Linked DNA regions of Homo sapiens: regions 2 and 3 are each linked to region 1. Evidence: fine-mapped expression QTL. A gene starts in region 1. Each other region holds a variant in brackets. All regions are shown on one strand. Distances are between the middles of the regions. Region 1 holds the start of MXRA8 (matrix remodeling associated 8). Region 2 overlaps CCNL2 (cyclin L2). Region 3 holds the start of MIR6726 (microRNA 6726).

Region 1 (6,107 bases):
GGACGGGCAGGACCAGAGGGCCCTGGTGGTGGAGGGGAAGTCCGTGGGGTGGGGCAGACCCCCGAGGGCCTGGATAGGGGAGGGGGAGTCACTGGGGGAGGGGCGGACCCTGATGGTCCTGATGGGGGAGGGTGAATCAGTGGGGGAGGGGCGGGCTCTGAGGACCCTGGTGGAGGAGGAGGAGTAACTGGGGGAGGGGTGTGCCCCAAGGACTCTGGCGGGGTTGGGGGCATCTTTGGGGGGGTGTGGGCCCCTGAGGCCCCTCGTGGTGGGGGAGATTCCATGGGGGAGGGGCATGCCCCCTAGGGCCCATGTGGGGGAAGGGGAATCATTGGGGGAGTGGTGGACCCCCGAGGGCCCTGGCAGGGGAGGGGGAGTCCATGGGGGAGGGCAAGTCAGTCGGGGAGACATGGGGCCCAAGGACCCTAGTGGGGGATGGGGAGTCCATGGGGGAGTGGTGGGCCCCGAGGGCCCTGGTGGGGAAGGGGACTCAGTAGGGGAGGGGCAGACCCCGAAGGCCCTGGTTGGGGAAGGGGAGTCAGTGGGGGCATCTGTGGGGGAGGGGTGGGCCCCCGAGGGCCCTGGTGGGTGTGCGGGAGTCTGTGGGGGAGGGCCAGGCCCCCAAGGGCCCTGGTAGGGGAAGAGGAGTCATTGGGGGAGGGGGAGTTATTGGCAAGGGGAGGTGCCCAAGGGTCCTGATGAGCAAGGGGGAATCAGTGGGGGAGGGGCAGGGCCTGAGGACCCCCGGGGGCTGGGCCTGGCAAGATAGGAGGGGCTGAGGGGGAGTGGGGGTGGGCAGCTGGGGCTGGGGTCACTAACCTGAGTGCAGGAGAACAGCAGAGCCTGGAAGGAGAGGAGTGAGCTGGAGAGGCCACCCACAGCCCCACCCAGCCCCGAGACCCCCCACTTGGCCCCCAGAGTCCCTCCTGTAGTCCCAAAGTGGATGCTGTGACACCCACTTCAGTGCAGGGAGGACGCCTCTCACACAGACCTACATAGCCCTCCCTGCCACCGTGCTGGGCTTTGGATGGCACCTGCCCTTGAGTGGGGAAGCCAGGGCATGGGCGTGGGCCAGGGCCAGGCTCCAAGCCAGCCGGTTCTGGGGTGTGTGCTTGTCACCGGGGCCACTCCACCTGGCTGCACCCAAGTCACCCAGAGCACCAAGGAGGCTGGATCTGTGGGTTCCCCCACGCTCCCTCCAGGGCTGTGCCCCAGCCCCCGAGGGTCCTTGGACCCTCAGACGCTGGGGACCCCACACCACACCTAAGGCTCAGCGCAGCCCCTGAGGTGCTTCCGCAGGGCAGAGGCCTGAAGGCTGAATGTGGGTCGTGACCCCGGCTGCCGCCCCACAGGCCCGCGTTGCTGCTTGAGGGACTCTCATTGTCGTAGGCCGCCTCGGCATCCACTCTGAATCTAGGCTGGACTTTCTCTGACCGGAAGCGGGGCTGCCACCCGGGACAGTTTCCAATTCACATCCCCCGTCCTCGAGCTGATCCACCCAGACGCCCGCCCTACGCACTGTCCCCTGGTGACCACCCCCTGTGTCCCCACAGACCCCACGCCCCACATGGACTGTGCAGCTGCACCACGGAGTCCCCCCACAGTCAGCGTGGCCCCACGGGGCTCGTGCCGCTTGCCTTAAACCCACCAGTTAAAACTCCCCCACCAGGCATGGTGGCTCACGCCTGTAATCCCAGCACTTTGGGAGGCCAAGGCAGGTGGATCACCTGAGGTCAGGAATTCAAGACCAGCCTGGCCAATATGAAAAACCCCATCTGTACTAAAAATACAAAAAATTAGCCGGACGGGGTGGTAGTGGGCGCCTATAGTCCCAGCTACTTGGGAGGCCGAGGCAAGAAAATGACTTGAACCCGGGAGGTGGAGGTTGCAGTGAGCCGAGATCACGCCACTGCACTGCAGCCTCCTTGGCGAGAGAGAAACTGCCTCCAAAAAAATTCCCTGAGGGAAACCTGTATGCAGAACGCCCTGATCCCAATAAAGGGTTGGCCTGGGGGTCCCTGTCTCTCTCCACTTTCCCTGGCCTCCCAGCAGTCTGTGCACCCCAGGGCCCGTGGGTGATAAAAGCTGTTTCTATCCTGTGTCTCTAGATCACTGGGGGCTGCTCTCCCTCACATAGATCCTATGTGAAAACTGCCCCAGAGATGTGGCCGAGAGCCTGGGAGCTTCCCAGAGGAATGTGCCCGGTCAGCAGCCAGCCCAGGCCTGGGAGCGGGGGCTGGAACAGACCCCACAGTTCTCAGGTCCCCTTCAATCACTGACCCACTCCCTAAACAGAGCCCCAGCAAGAGGGGCTGCAGGAGGGGCCCCGAGGGAGACGCCGCCGTGCCTGGGCCCCCAGCCCTTCTTGGCCCTCTGGGCTTCAACTCCCTAGGAGGGGAGGCTGGCCAAAGTCTAACTGAAGACGTCACAGCCTCTGGCAAGCGGCTCTCCCGAGCGCCCCCAGACCCGTCCTCTTCCCTGGTGGGACCTTCCCACTCCTCCTGGCCCAAGCTCAGATGGGCGGTTTTGTCCGAAACGGACTCGCACAGCCCCACGTGCCACCCCCCACCCGCCTCCCAGGGCCCCACACTCACTCTGCAGAAGCACAAGTTTCCAAAGCAGGATTCGGGATGGCAGCGCCATGGCCCCCGCCCAGCCCCAGGCTTTGTCCCACTCGGCTCTAAGTCTCTCTCCAGAAAAACAGCCCTACCCCCTCCCCCTCCTTAGCACCCGCGGTGACATCACGGAGGCCTGGGCCTGTCTACGGTCTGGGGACCGCCCCCTCTGGCTCCTGCCGGGCCCCTTGGCCTCCCCCATCGTTGCTGGCCTGCTGGGGAGGGGCAGTGTGGGAGCAGAGGCCCAGCCCCTCACCGGTCAGGCCTGGGGAGGGGTGGTGACCGCACCCTTGGAGGGACAAGAAGGTCCGAGGACATGGGCCCCTGATACCACGTGATCGTGTCTCACGTCTAGGAGCCTCCCGGGCCTGTGGTGAAGGGTTGGGACTGTTGGGTGAGTGGCCCCTCCGCCCCACCTCTGGCCTCCCCCCACGTGAGCCACCTCAGGGCAGGGTCCTCCCCTCAGTCTGCTCCAGGCCCCAGAAAGGCCTCCCAGCGCTGAGACCGCCCCCACCCACGGTGCACGCTGGTGCTCTCCTTCAGACCAGATGGCCCTTCCAGCTCCAACCCTTGGCCCTGCATGACCTTGGTACCCGTCTCCTCTGGGGGCCACGGTGGGCTCCCTTGGGCCAGGATGATGGACGCTGCCAGTCACTAGTCCCCTTTACAACCTGGAGAGTCAGCCAGGGACAGGGGACCCTGAGCACTGGGAGGCCTGGGGGTGCTGGGGTGAGCAGACCTCTCCCTGCTGGCCCCGTCCCCTGGGGCTGCCCGCCTTTAGGGTGCAGCCTGGTGTCCCTGAAACCAGGTGCTGGATTACAAGCCTCCTGGAGAAAGGGGAGAGTGGGACCCCTGCCATGGAAGGCACAAATTTGAAACTGTGGGAAAACTTACAAAGTCACATAAACAAATGCGAAATAACAGCCTGCACTGTGTAGCAAACCCAACTCCTTCTAATCAAGCAAACCTCAAGAAAAAACAATCTGAACAACCACAACCACTAGAAACCCTCAGTGCATAGTTCCGCCCGCCCACTTGGAGTGAGCTCTCCTTACAGGCCCCGAGGGCCCCAGCTGGGTGGGGGGCTCACCCCTGAACCCTGCTCTGGTGCCCAAGTCCTCAGACAGTGGGAAGCCCAGTGCAGATCAGAGTGGTGGTCTCAGGGCGAGGGGAGGGGAACCTGCGGCTGCTCCAGTGAGAGGAACGGGCAGGACACGGACCGGCGTAAGGACAGAAGACCCCACCCCACCCCAGCCCGGTCAGACCCATTTCCTCAGCAGGGTCCTGGCCCGGGCGGCGACCTTTCCAAACTGGCTTCAGGGCTGAACACATCCCGCCACCCCCACTCCCTCCCTGGGCCTTTCATTCTGGAAAAACAAGCCCCACCTGGCTGGCCTCGAGGCCTCTGCTGGCCTCTCCTCCTGTTTTTCCAACTGGTTTGTATTAGTGCTGGCAGCTGCCCGCCCGCCCATGTCTGTCTCCGTCGCACACTCTGGGGCCTTGGCCTCTGCAGTCTCTGTCTCCTTCCGTCACTCTCCCTGTTCCCTCTCTCCCCATGGAGGGAGGACGGACAGCAGTTTGGTGGGGGGACAGGGTTGGCCCTCGGGTCTGGGAGGGCCCGGCTCTGGGTGCAGGGCTGAGAGGGGCGCCTGGTCCGCACGACAGCCTCAGGCCAGGGCTCGCCTCACTCTGCAGGGCCGTCCCTCTCCGGGCAGTGGCCTCCAGCCACACTTTCGGGGACCCAGCCAGCGGAGATGCAGGCCAGAGGCTGTCGTCTGAGAGGGCCCTGACCTCTGAGAGGGCCACCTGGGGGCAGCTGACCCCCATGGGGCCCTGGGCAAGGAACAAAAGGCTGATGAGGCCATCAGGCCCCTTCCCTGACCCTCCCTGTCCGGCCCTCAGTGGGAAACAGCCACAGAGAAGAGCAGGCCTGGTAGTGACCAGGTCACCTGCTCCTCCCAGGGCCAGTGACCTGTGCCTCTTCTGCACCTTCCTGGGCTGGGACTGTGGAGCCTCTGCTCGCTGGGGGGTGGTCTGCAGAGCTGTGGGTGTGTGACTTAATTCCCAGCCTGGCCTGGCATTTTTCTCCCTCTGGGAAGAGGACAAACCAGGACAAAGCCACTGGCATCACTGTGCTCTGGCTAAGCCCCCAGCCAAACCAGCGCCCTGGACCGTCCTCCTAGCCCCACCTCTGGGGGTTGGGGTGGAGCAAGAGGGGTCAGCTGGCCCCACGGCCCGCACTGAGGATCTGATCTTGGCTGCCATTCCTGGTGACTCGGACATTCCAGGCAGCCCGTCTCATTGGGAAGAAAAACCACAGGCACTCAGAGCCACAAGCAGCACAGCCAAGCCCATATTCACTCCCATGAGTGTGCACAGACACATGCACACACACACAAAGACACACATGGAGACACACAGAGATACACACGCATGCACACGAAGACACATGGAGACACAGACACGCATGCACATGAAGACACGGAGACACACAGAGATACACGGAAACACAGACACATGCACACACGCGAAGACACAGACACATACACATGCATGCACATGAAGACACGGAGACACAGATACATGGAAACACGAACACAGACATGCGCACACACGACACACATGGAGACACGCATGCATGCACATGAAGACACACGGACACACAGAGAAGATACACGGAAACACAAACACACAGACACAGGTCCACACACAGAAACAGAGACACACACAGACACACATGGAAAGACACACACAGAGACACGGACCTGTGGCCGCACAGCGGATCATCGATGGCTGAAGAGTCCCACTTCCTGTCGTTCAGAAGCGTTTGCTGACCACCTCCTGGGTGCCAGGCTTGCTGGGCACTGGGGACTCAGCACTAAGCCGGGTGCCAGCCATGGCCCTCTTGGACCCCAGCCTCCTGGACTGTGCTGCATGTGGTGGAGGGAATGAGACAGGGGTCGGGGGGCGCCCAGGCTGGAGGGGCGAGGACGGACGGACCCAAGGAAGCAACCTCTGTGACAGCAAATGCCAGGCGAGGCCTGAGGACGCGGCTTCCAGGCGCAGCCAGTGGCGGGGCTGCCAGGAGTGGTCTTGGGACGCCAGGGACCCTGTGTGTGTGGTAGGGGGGCCACTGCTGACACCAACACAGACAGGGTTAGGCTCGAGGACAAACCGTATTCGCCGCCGCCGCACCTGCCACGCACATCGGAAGCGTTAGCACAGTTTTCCCTGCGTGGGGCTGGGTCTCCTACCCAGGCTGAGTTTCTCCCCTCTAAGAGGAAACACCGCCAGCCTTCTTTCTCCTACGGCCTTTGGATTCTGAAAACTCGCTGTGGGGAGGGACGTGAGGCTTCGGCACCAGGAACCCCTGCGGGCTAAGACGGTGTTGGCCAATCACATCCAGTCACTCTCCTGGGAAAGTCACTTTTATGGAGACAGCCCCCCAAGGGGGTCTCAAGATATATTGAAGTTTTGGTTAGTTATGTATGC
Region 2 (6,107 bases), 36 kb after region 1:
TTGTGAGGGAATCTGACCCATGACCTTCCAGCAATATCTCTGTCCTAAATAAACCTTGGAGAAGGTAACATACAAACCCACTCAAGAGATTTCTAAATGGGAAGTCCTACAGGTGCCTCTTGGAGACACCCGGCTCTGGAAGCAGCTCCAGGCATCACGGGGGAATCTGTGTGGCGGCCGTGTGGCCCCAGCCCCTGATGCAAGCGTGCCAGTGCACAGCTCTAACACAGATACATTCAACAATCAGTAACCTTTCGGTGTCTAATCAACAACTGTCAGTATTCAAGTAGTGATATTAATCCACGAACTTAAAATTCTTAAAAACAAATGAAATCTTGAGAACATATAAACTTATTGCTGTATTTGAAGTGATACAATATTTTTCAAAGTATCCATGAAATAATTTAAAGATGCACACCTTTTACCAGAGCGTGTCATGCAAAGCTGCTCAAAAGAGCAACTTCAGGGCTTCTAGAAATCATGACATAACCCCACACTGACACAGCCAATTTGTCTCTTCAATTCTCACAGCTTTCCATAGCATTTTTTTTTAAGAGAAAGGTACTGCATCTTTATCATACAGGTACAGCAGTTTTAAAGGGACAAAATTCAAGTCAAGACAGTTACCAACTCTAATCAATACGATTACCAAAGCACGACAGAGGATTAACAAGAAGCACAATCGTCAGAGAACCACAGCAGGAGTCGGCCATGGCTATGCTATGTGCGTACCACCAGTCTAGAGCCAGCCTTCGGTGGAGAGCCTGCACTGGATTGGCTGAAGATGCCGCTGTCCCTGCACCAAAGCGCTTGGACAGCAGAGGAGAAGTCTTAGTCACTTACCCTCAGAGGCTACCCTTTGATTGAAAGAGTACAGAAAAGAAAAGTCAAAATAGGTTCTCTATTAAACATGTCATAGCACCAGACAATTCAGTCAGCAAAAATATGACCCTTACAGACTTAACTCCATGGGAAAAAATTCACCAGAATCCCCAGAATCCCCCAAATACTACATTGCACTTTAGGGTTCCTTTCTAGCACATGCATTGCTAAAATCGGCCCCAGAACCTTCTCTGCCCCTCTCCCATGGGATGCAATGTCAGTGGAGAAACAGACCAAGTCTGCACTAGCCTGTCCCTCCACCCTCCCCAGGAAAAGGTCCCCCTGCGCCAAGTCAACAGCTCCCAGAGGAAGCCCACTGACTGCTCTCTTCAGGGTGGGGGACACAGGAAGTCCAGGCTTGCAGGGAGGGGACGGGCCACCTACCGTGACTGCCAGTGCCCATTTTGGGAGTCTGATTGGAATTTATACAGCAGGAGCACTGGGCACTCGGACAACTCCAGCCCACAACCAAGTCACTGGGCTGCCTACCCACTGCCCAAGTGCCTCAAGTCAACACATTCCTGCACTGCCCTTGCTGGTCTCATAAAACAAGGAAGCTCAACTCACCATGAGGTCTGGACCAGGTGTTGGTTACGCTCACACTCTAACACCTGAAGGTACATAACGATTATCTGGAAGATACGGGTCAGGCAGTTATTACCAAGAACCTTAAGAGCCCAGAATTCAGATCTTGTGGGTGTCCATGCAGCAAACAAGAGCCTCAAGCTAGATCCCAGGAGTGGCTCCTGGCCACACGTCTGGCGGACGGCTCAGCTGGAGGGAGCTTTGCGATTGCACCTGCTGTCTGCCTTGGCAGCCAGGCAGGACGCATGCCCGTGAGCCCAGCCACACAACCCACGGCACAGGCCTCGTTCTTCATGGGGCTGGTTTCATTCTAGTCTTCAATGCCTTTCCACCAGTGAGGTTGGCCTGTCCTACACGTCTCTGTATCCCAGTTAACAACTCACCAAAACACAATATGAACATACTTTCAGCAAACAGAGAAGAACACTTCAGGCCAGGCACACTGGCTCATGCCTATAATCCCAGCACTTTGGGAGGCTGAGGCGGGCAGATCACCTGAGGTCAGGAGTTCGAGAACAGCCTGACCAATATGGAGAAACCCAGTCTCTACTAAAAATACAAAATTAGTCAGGCATGGTGGTGCACGCCTGTAATCCCAGGTACTCAGGAGGCTGAGGCAGGAGAATCGCTTGAAACCAGGAGGCGGAGGCTGCATGAGCTGAGGTTGCGCCATTGCACTCCAGCCTGGACAACAGAGCGAGATTCCGTCTCCAAAAAAAAAAAAAAAGCACTTCAATCTGTGGTGGGCAATTTGTGGATAATTTGAACAGATGGCAGAAAGCCGAACAAGCAGATGAGGAAACCCACCAATAAAAAGGAGATGGAACCAAAGATGGAAACAATTTTTTGGGAAAACAAGTGCTTTGTTTCCATGTGACACAGAAGGCACCCACAACGCTGGGAGTGAGGGACCGTGTCACGGCCATGGTCCTCAGTCAGTACATGCCGCAAAACTCGCCAGTCATTTCAGACTAAAGGGGCCAGAATTCCCCTAATTTCTCCATAAGAGAAAGTAAAGCTATCACTAAAGCAAATGTAGAAAATTAACTGTTGAGGCTGGGTGCAGTGGCTCACACTTGTAATCCCAGAACTTTGGGAGGCCGAGGCAGGTGCATCACCTGAGATCAGGAGTTTGAGACCAGCCCGGCCAACATGACGAAACCCCATCTCTACTAAAGATACAAAAATTACCCAGGTGTGGTGGCGCATGCCTGTAATCCCAGCTACTTGGGAGGCTGAGGCACAAGAATCACTTGAACCTGGGAGGCAGAGGTTGCAGTGAGCCAAGATTGCACCACTGCACTCCAGCCTGCATGACAGAGTAAGACTCCGTCTCAAGAAAAAAAAAAAAAAAAAAAAAAAAGGCCAGGCACAGTGGCTTATGCCTGTAATCCCAGCACTTTGGGAGGCCAAGGTGGGAGGATCACGAGGGCAAGAGATGAAGACCATTCTGGCCAACATGGTGAAACCCCGTCTCTACTAAAAATACAAAAATCAGCTCGGCGTGGTGGCACGTGCCTGTAGTGCCAGCTACTCAGGAGGCTGAGGCAGGAGAATGGCTTGAAGCCGGGAGGTGGAGGTTGTGCCTCCACTGCCACTGCCACCATGCCACTGCACTCCAGCCTGGCGATA[G/A]AGCGAAACTCCATCTCAAAAAAAAAGAAAACAAAAAAAAATTAACTGTAGAGAAAGGAAAACATAAACTAAAATTCAACATTTATAAACTCACCACTATTTTTGAAAGCCCAAACTTAAATAATACCATTTCCAAAACACTTAAAAATGTGTTACTAAAATAAACAGCTGACACTAGAAGACGAATACGTCAGGAACTATTCTTGAGATTATAAATAGAAACTGGAAAGCCAAGTCAGGGATGCACTCAGTCCTCTTCAGAGCCTTCAACTGCACTGAGGTGGAGAGAGGCGGCCAGGCAGGAGCAGCGGCCTAGGCGGGCTCGCAGGGCAGGAGCCGCACACCCACCTTATGAGGATGCTTCACATGGACGCAGAAACCCAACTCTTTGAGAACTCGTCTTTCCGCCTTTATAATTTGGTTCTTTAAATTAACATAATCTTGATCCAGTAGTAGAGGCACGGGCTTCCTGCCAGAGAGAGAGCACAGGGTCTGCACCACAGTCAAGCAGAGCAAGGCTTCTGAGATCCCGTCGTTACCTCCAACTATGAGCACCTAACACAAACCCCACAACACAACATCGCTATGAAGTCCACATCCTCTGATGAACAAAACTGCACACCGCTCCCCACAGCCCAGTGCCAACCTCCTCATCCCTTCCCAACGATCCCTCCCTGCTTTTCCTTATAGATCAACAGCTTCTGGTGCACAAGCATAGACCGAACATAGCAAGTTTTAGGATCTCGTGGCACAAATGCTAAAGCACTTTATGTGACTCACGATAGGAAGGTACATATTCACAGTTCAATAACCACAGAACCAATGAAAGCACAATTATTTAAATACAGATGGGCCAGGTGCAGTGGCTCTGCCTGTAATCCCAGCACTTTGGGAGGCGAGGCAGGCAGACTGCCTGAGCTCAGGAGTTCAAGACCAGTCTGACCAACATGGTGAAACCCTGTCTCTACTAAAAAAATGCAAAAATTAGCCGGGCGTGGTGGCGGGTGCTTGTAATCCCAGCTACTCAGGAGGCTGAGGCAGGAGATTCACTTGAACCCAGGAGGCGGAGGTTTCAGTGAGCCGAGATCGCATCACTGCACTCCAGCCTGGGTGACACGGTGAGACACAGTGAGAGTCCGTCTCAGAAAAAAAAAAAAAAAAAAAGGGCTGGGTGCAGTGGCTCACACCTGTAACCCCAGCACTTTGGGAGGCCGATGAGGCCATGTTTTTTCTTTTTTTGAGATGGAGTCTCACTCTGTTGCCCAGGCTGGAGTGCAGTGGCGCGCTCTTGGCTCACTATAACCTCCACCTCCCAGGTTCAAGCAATTCTCCTGCCTCAGCCTCCCAAGTAGCTGGTATTACAGGCATGCACCACCACGACCAGCTAATTTTATATTTGTAGTAGAGATGGGGTTTCTACATGTTGGTCAGGCTGGTCTCGAACTCCCGACCTCAGATGATCCACCCGCCTTGGCCTCCCAAAGTGCTGGGACTATAGGCGTGAGCCACTGCGCTCGGCAAGGCTGTTTTTTTTTTTTTTTTTTTTTTTTTTGAGACAGAGTTTCACTTTTGTTGCCCAGGCTGGAGTGCAATGGCACAATCTCAGCTCACTGCACCTCTAACTCCCCGGTTCCAGCGATTCTCCTGCCTCACCCTCCCGAATAGCTGGGATTACAGGCACCCGCAACCACACCCGGCTAATTTTTTTTTTATTTTTTTTTGAGACGGAGTCTTGCTCTGTCGCCCAGGCTGGAGTGCAGTGGCCCGATCTCAGCTCACTGCAAGCTCCACCTCCCGGGTTCACGCCATTCTCCTGCCTCAGCCTCCCAAGTAGCTGGGACCACAGGCACCCGCCACCACGCCTGGCTAACTTTTTTGTATTTTTAGTAGACGGGGTTTCACCGTGTTAGCCAGGATGGTCTCGATCTCCTGACCTCGTGATCCACCCGCCTCGGCCTCCCAAAGTGCTGGGATTACAGGCGTGAGCCACTGCACCTGGCCAATTTTTGTGTTCTTAATAGGGACAGGGTTTCACCATATTGGTTAGGCTGGTCTCGAACTCCTGACCTTAGGTGATCCACCTGCCTAGGCCTCCCAACGTGCTGGGATTACAGGCCAGCCCGGCCAGAGGCTGTGTTTTCTAAAGGACTTCAATTAACTTCAGGTGCATAAACCCTGGGCTAAGGTCAGAGGCAGCGGTTCTCTGCTGGAGAAATTTTACTATTCCAGGGCCATGAAGCAACATCAACAGACTTTCGTTTTTTTTGGAAACAGGGCCTCACCCTGTTGTCCAGGCTGGAGTGCAGTGGTGACATCACAGCTCACTGCAGCCTCAATCTCCTGGCCTCAAGCAAACCTCCTTTTTCAGTCTCCCAAGTGCTGAGATGACAGGTGTGAGCTCCCACATCTGGTATGAGAGAATTTCTGGCTGTCACATCTAAGGTGGGGTACTCCTGTCATCCAGTGAGTCGAGACCAGGGATGTTGCTGAATCCTGCAGCACACAGGAGAATCCCCTACAACTAAAGATTACCCAGCCAGATGCGGTGGCTGAAATCTGTAATCCCAGTGCTTTGGGAGGCTAAGGCCAGCAAATCCTTGGAGCCCAGGAATTTGAGACCAGCCTGGGCAACACAGCATGACCCCATCTTTACCAAATAAAAAATAAAAATTAGCTGGCATGGTTGGCGTGCTCCTATAGTCCCAGCTACTCAGGAGGCTGAGGCAGGAGAAACTCTTGAGCCTAGGAGGTTGAGGCTGTAGTGAGCCATGATCATACCACCGCACTCTGCCCTGGACAACAGGAAACCTGTCTCAGGAGGAAAAAAAAGATTATCCAGCCTGAATGTCAATAGTGCTGAGATTAAGATTCCCTGCTCCAGAGCACTCAGAAACTTGTGGGACAGAAGCAGCAGCAGGGCCGTGCACTGACATGGGTAAAGCAGGAAGCCAGCCCCAGCGCGACCCGCCACAGCGCACTGTCCTCACTGGAGCCCCTGCCCTTACTAA
Region 3 (6,107 bases), 62 kb before region 1:
GACGCCCCTGCCCTGGAGGCCCCGCCCCTGCCCTGGAGGCCCCGCCCCTGCCCTGGAGGCCCCGCCCAGCCCCGAGGGCCCGGCCGCGCTCACAGTGTCACGATGTCAGCGTTGGCCGCCTGCACTGCGATGGCCAACGGGTCCCGCTGCTCTTGGTCCAGGGCGTGCTGGTCCGCGCCCCGCTTCAGGAACAGGCAAACCTGGCTGAGGGGCGAGGTCGGAGGGGCGTGTCGGGGCGGGGCGGGGCGGGGCGAGTGTGGTCGCGGGGGCGTGGCCGGATAGGGCATGGCGGACAGGGCGTAGCCGGGCCGGGGTAGGCGTGGTCGGGGCACAGGGCGGGGCGTGGGTTGCGCGTCTCACCCGGTGCGGCCCAGCAGCGTGGCGTGGTGCAGGGGCGCCCGGCCCCGGCTGTCTCTTTGGTTCACGTCCGCTCCGTTTTGCAGCAGGAACTCACAGACGATCAAGGAGCCCTGGGGAGCCGGGGCAACTCAGACGGAGCCACGGCACCGGCCCCTCTCCGCGCCTCTGCACCCTGACCCCGGCCTTGGGCGCCCCCAGCCGGGACCGAACGTGGTCCCCACCGCGGACAGGCGACCCTTGTGTGGGCGCCACAGAAGATGCAAACGCGACTGTGCACCTGTGTCCTGCGCGCAGCCCCCGTGGCTCGCTCACCCCTAGCACGGCCTGCACCAGCGGCGTCTTGCCCTCATCCTCCGCGTCCGCCCAGTTGACCTCGGCCCCGTGGGCCAGCGCCGCCGCCAGCGCAGGAAGGTCGCGGGCACGCGCTGCGCGGTGCGCCAAGAGCCCCGGGTGCAGCTCGCGCACGTCCGCCAGGCCCCAGGCCTCGGCCTCAGTGTCCCCGTCTGCCTCACCGCTGGACTCCTCCGACTCTGCACCCTCTGTGGGGAGGGGGCGGTCAGGGAAAGCAACCCCCGGGGCTGCCCAGGGGCTGGGCAGGGGCCTCGGGCGAGGGCAAGACGCCACCCACCCTCCTCAGTGACGCTGTCCACCACAGAGCCCGAGCCGAAAGCCAGGACGTCCGAGCTGCCATCCGAGCTGCCCCCAAGGCCACTGTCGCTACTCAGACCTGCAGGTCCGCAGGGAAGGGGGTCCTGAGGGTGGGAGGCCCAGACTCCGTCCAGAGCCCTGGGGCAAGGCTGGAACTCCACCCACCCTCCAGGGGCCACCCCTAGGGACAGGACCAGCTCCCACCCAGGGCCGGGGGGAGCCAGCTGCAGGCTAGGAGCAAAGGAGAGAAAACCAAATAACAGCTCAAAGGTGCCAGGGGTAGCCCCCTAAAGCCCAGGCCTTTTGGGAAGCCCTTCCCTCCCGCTCGCCGCCTTACCCGGCACCCCCCGCAGTGGGCCCCCCAGCCCCGTCTGTGGCTGGCCCAGGCTGAAATGTCTCCACCCAACCAACGGGCAGCATGGCTCCAGAAGGGCCCTAGGCTGAGGGCCGGCTGGCAGCGCCCTCTGCTTCCCCAGCACCCCGGGCCACCCGCTGTGTGCACACACCCAGGTGCACACAGCCCACACACACATTTGCACAGCTCACCCCTGACAGTCAGGGCCTTGGCCTCCAGCTGTGTGGCCAGGAGGCCCCCCGCCCCTTCAGATGCTGCTCCATTCCCTGGCAAGGGCCATCCACACTCAGGCACCCTTCAGGCCAGCCTCCTTGGCCCTGCCCTGCCACCTGGCTGGGCCCACCCCACACTTACTGCGAGGGCCAGCCCCTGCGGCCCCTGCGTCGAAGTAGGAGAAGAGCGAGTCCAGCTCGTCGGGACAGAAGAGGGAGTCTCGGCGGAACTTACGATCCAGGGTGCCCACTGCAGGGGCAGTGCGTGTTCAGAGTGTGGAACAGGCCCGGGGTGGGGCAGGGAACCCCAGGTCACGCCGGGAGTCTGCGGAGCCTGAGGTGCCCCCAGAGCCCTGCCACCAGCCCCTTGACGGAGTCCATCCCCGACCAAGGCAAGCCCCTCCCAGCCCTGCCGGGGCATGGCCTCCCACCTGAGGACAGAGCGGCCACACAGGGCAGAACGGGCTCAAGCCGGACCTTGCGGCGGGCAGTGGGAGCGCGGGGAGAGCTGTGGGGCCGCAGGCACTTCTGCACCCTCCAGCGTCTTGGGGCCTCCAGGGCTGGTGCCATGGGCGCCTTCCGCAGAAACTTCTTTTCCACGTATTTGTCCTTGATCCAGGCCTCCTTGTCCTGCCTGGACCAGGGGGGAACATGAGGCTGTGCCCCCAGGCTGGGGCTCCCTGACTGATCCAGACTGTACCCCACCTCACCGGGAGCTGCTGGCTGTGGGTTTCCTGCTGCCTGCACCCTCACACTGGGCCTCATAGATCTGATTCACAGCGCTGTTTCCAAGCTCACACATCAGCTAGCGGGAGACAGGGCGAGCAGGCATCAGTGCGAACCTGCAGACCCCAGCTCCCGCCCCCACAAACGGGGTCCCGTGGCCTCCAGGAGCCCCACACGCACCTTTAGCAGCTCAGGCTCCCACGAGTCCAGCGTCAGGGACCGCACCTTGGAGCAGTGGACACCCAGGCTCCTGGAGAGCAGAGGTAGGGATGAGTCTGGGGGAGGCAAGGCCCCCAGCTCCGGCCCAACCCCCACCCCCGGCCTGGCCCTCAGGGGCCCACCTGTGGATGCTCCAGCCCAACCCCCACCCCCAGCCTGGCCCTCAGGGGCCCACCTGTGGATGCCGGAGCACTCAATGCAGAGCAGCACGCCCAGGTTGATGCTGGCCCAGCGGGGGTCCGGCTGGCCGCAGTCGCCGCACTGGCTGTTGCCGGCCACACTCTGCACACGCTGCAGCACACTCTCGCCCTTCACGCCACGCTCCCGAGTGTCGGTGGCGGAGTCGATGCTGCTCGTGGACGGGGATGCTGTGCGGTCCAGCCTCTGGAGGATGGGGTGGAGCTGCTCGGTCCCGCAGGGGCTCCAGCATGGTTTCCCCAGCAGGCCCCCTCCTCCCCAGCCAGAAGAGCCAATGCAGGCCAGGGCCCCTCGAGCACACGCCCGCACACGCACGTACACGCGCACACCCTCACGTGGGCAGATG[GC/G]CCCCCCCTCGAGCACACGCCCGCACACGCACACACGCGCACACCCTCACGTGGACAGGTGGCGCCGAGCACACGCCCGCACACGCACGTACGTGTGCACACCCTCACGTGGGCAGATGGTGCCGAGCACACTCCCACACGCGCGTGTATACGTGCACACCCTCACATGGGCAGATGGTACCTGCACACACATGCACATCCACACTGCACAAGCCAGCATGCCAGTGCACACCAGCACACACCCAGCTTGCAGGAGCCACACACAGGCGTGTGCACGTGTGTGGGGCAGGGGCCATCCCCAGTGGCACGTAGGTGTGTGCACCGGCACGGGGCAGGGGCCATCCCCAGTGGCACGTGTGTGTGTGCACAGGCGCGGGGCAGGGGCCATCCCCAGTGGCACGTGTGTGTGTGCACAGGCGCGGGGCAGGGGCCATCCCCGGTGGCACATGTGTGCACGGGCTTGGGGCAGGGGCCATCCCCGGTGGCACGTGTGTGTGTGCACAGGCGCGGGGCAGGGGCCATCCCCGGTGGCACGTGTGTGTGTGCACGGGCTTGGGGCAGGGGCCATCCCCGGTGGCACGTGTGTGTGTGCACAGGCACGGGGCAGGGGCCATCCCCAGTGGCACGTGTGTGTGTGCACAGGCGCGGGGCAGGGGCCATCCCCGGTGGCACATGTGTGCACGGGCTTGGGGCAGGGGCCATCCCCGGTGGCACGTGTGTGTGTGCACAGGCGCGGGGCAGGGGCCATCCCCGGTGGCACGTGTGTGTGTGCACGGGCTTGGGGCAGGGGCCATCCCCGGTGGCACGTGTGTGTGTGCACAGGCACGGGGCAGGGGCCATCCCCAGTGGCACGTGTGTGTGTGCACAGGCGCGGGGCAGGGGCCATCCCCGGTGGCACGTGTGCACGGGCACGGGGCAGGGGCCATCCCCGGTGGCACGTGTGTGTGTGCACAGGCGCGGGGCAGGGGCCATCCCCGGTGGCACGTGTGTGTGCACGGGCTTGGGGCAGGGGCACCAAGGGCCACACCTCGCTATAGCAACTGTCAGGGCTCTCGCGGTAGGCGGAGGCGATGCTGGCCTGCACAGCCTGGACCCAGGCTTGCCGCAGCTTCTCGGAGTCAGCCTGCAGCATGCAGCTCCTGCAGGCAGTGGAGGGGCGGGCGTCAGCTCCGGTGGGCAGGTACGCCCCCCGCCCCACCCTGGGCTGGGCCTCCTCACTTGGTGGGTGACAGCACCTCGAAGCAGAACCTCCGCTCGATGTCCTCACACGGCTTCACAGAGCACAGGCGGAGGTCATCCACCACCACGGTGAGGGCATCCTGTGGGCGGCACCGCTGTGGCCCCTGCCCTCAGCCACCACCCGGCCCCGACCACCCACTTCCTGCTTCACCTTGGAGACCCGGAGGCCGACTGCCTGAGCCCCAAGCCCCGTGTCCAGCTCTCTGCTCCCTGACTGTTCCGGCTCCGGCGTCCACTAGTGCCCCGGCCCTGTGCTAACCCCAACTGACCAGTCTGCCCTGTGGCCCAGGTGGGGCGTCCAGCCATCAGGGCCCCAGCCCCAGGCCCAGGGCACACCTTGAGCTTCTTCTGGTAGACCAGCTGGCTGTTCTGAATGGAGAACCAGCGCCTAGGTGGGTGGGGGGATGTGGGGAGTCAGGCGGGGCCCATCCCAGGGCTGCTGTGACCCCTGCCCCCACCTGAGGACCCCACCCCCGCCTGAGGACCCCACCCCCGCCTAAGGACCCCGCCCCCACCTGAGGAAGGCCTCTCACCGGTTCCATGTCTTGAAAGCGTTGCTGGCCCTCTTGAAGAGGTAGCCCTCCATCACCACCCCACTGGGCGCGTCCACGTCAAACTCCACTTTGGACTCATCGTAGGAGAAGTCCTGGGGGGATGGAACCCGCCCCCTCAGTGCCCACCCCAGGGGCCCTGCTACCCTCCGTGCTTTCCCGGAGCACAGGTGGGGGTGAGGTCCTTGTCTGAGGCTGCCACACGGCCCACGGACCACACGCTCAGACGAGAGACCCTCTGTTCACCACAGCCACTTCTTGACCTGAGCAAGGCCCCCAGCCCTGCAACCCGTGGGGCAGACCCCTCACGTTCACAGCTGGGGGCCCGAGAGTGCCGGCCCCACCCCAGCCCTGCAGGGACCAGCAGGCTGCGATCAGGAAGGAAGCTGCGCCCCCACCCTCCGCATCCTGAGTGCCCCATTCATGTGGCCAGCTGGGCGGACAGAGCCCCATTCAGGAGGCCTGGGAGTCACTGAGGGCCCTGTGTGTCCCGCCATCTGGCAGGCCAGGGAAGCAGAGGGGAGGGGCGGCCACCTGCTCCCCAGGCCACATGGGATGGGAAGGGACAGCTGCCGCCAACCCCACGGGGAATGTGGAGGTCTGGCCGGAGCCAGCCCCTCACAGCCGCATCAGCAGCAGGAGCCGAGACTGGTGGGAGGTGTCCTTGGTGCTGAAGTGCCCTTGGGGTAGAGGAGGGAAAGGCACCGCCCCATCTGGTCTCCCCCGACCCACAGCCCGCCCAGGGCCCGTGCTCACTTACCTGCAGCAGCGTCTGGAGGGCCGGAGCAGGAGGGGGTAGGGGGAGAAAGCCAGTGAGTGACGGCTGCCAACTCCTGGTGACTGGTGGACCCGTCCCCAACTCCTGGTGACTGGTGGACCCGTCCCCAACTCCTGGGGGGCTCTCCCCTATCCCAAAATAGCCACTCCTGCCTGCAGCCAACCTCTGCCCGGGATGGTGGCCGGGGCTGCTGTCCCACAGGCAAGCAAAGGCCCCGCAAGGAGCCAGTGACTGAGGCCACAGAGGTGACCACCGCCTCAAAAGGAGATCCCAGCAGCGGCCCCACCCACACGTGCCCCTCCACTGCACACATCAAAGGGAGCAGCCTTGGTCCCCTAGAGAGGGTGTGGGCAGGGCAGGTGGGAGACAGGCAGGAGGAAGGGGCGGGGAGGGTGTGCCGGGCATGGGGTGAGGACGCAGGGGCCTCCCAGGCGCCTGGTGTGCAGGGAGCCGGCTGCGCGGCCTCACCCGCTG

The links.
Region 2: its variant is fine-mapped to the expression of MXRA8 in whole blood (TOPMed, PIP above 0.99).
Region 3: its variant is fine-mapped to the expression of MXRA8 in hippocampus (GTEx, PIP 0.95).

What each region holds. Positions count from the first base shown.
Region 1 is chr1:1,355,862-1,361,968 of GRCh38, forward strand. MXRA8 (matrix remodeling associated 8) reads right to left here and starts at 2,694. Exons shown (of 10, transcript NM_032348.4): 1 at 2,595-2,694; 2 at 820-843. The coding sequence starts at 2,643. RefSeq lists enhancers at 655-1,207, 1,795-2,377 and a silencer at 2,708-2,827.
Region 2 is chr1:1,391,947-1,398,053 of GRCh38, forward strand. It overlaps CCNL2 (cyclin L2), which reads right to left. Exons shown (of 11, transcript NM_030937.6): 4 at 3,448-3,568; 5 at 1,450-1,514. Among named protein-coding and RNA genes, the nearest start is that of CCNL2, 4.3 kb to the right of the region's middle. RefSeq lists an enhancer at 1,016-1,516. The variant G/A (reference allele first, on the strand shown) is at 3,100.
Region 3 is chr1:1,293,730-1,299,836 of GRCh38, forward strand. It overlaps ACAP3 (ArfGAP with coiled-coil, ankyrin repeat and PH domains 3), which reads right to left. Exons shown (of 24, transcript NM_030649.3): 9 at 6,102-6,107; 10 at 5,616-5,627; 11 at 4,838-4,950; 12 at 4,641-4,692; 13 at 4,284-4,384; 14 at 4,093-4,204; 15 at 2,696-2,904; 16 at 2,482-2,551; 17 at 2,286-2,380; 18 at 2,007-2,209; 19 at 1,718-1,825; 20 at 989-1,087; 21 at 673-899; 22 at 361-470; 1 more. It overlaps MIR6726 (microRNA 6726), which reads right to left and starts at 2,441; the gene lies at 2,381-2,441. RefSeq lists an enhancer at 3,454-4,390. The variant GC/G (reference allele first, on the strand shown) is at 3,065.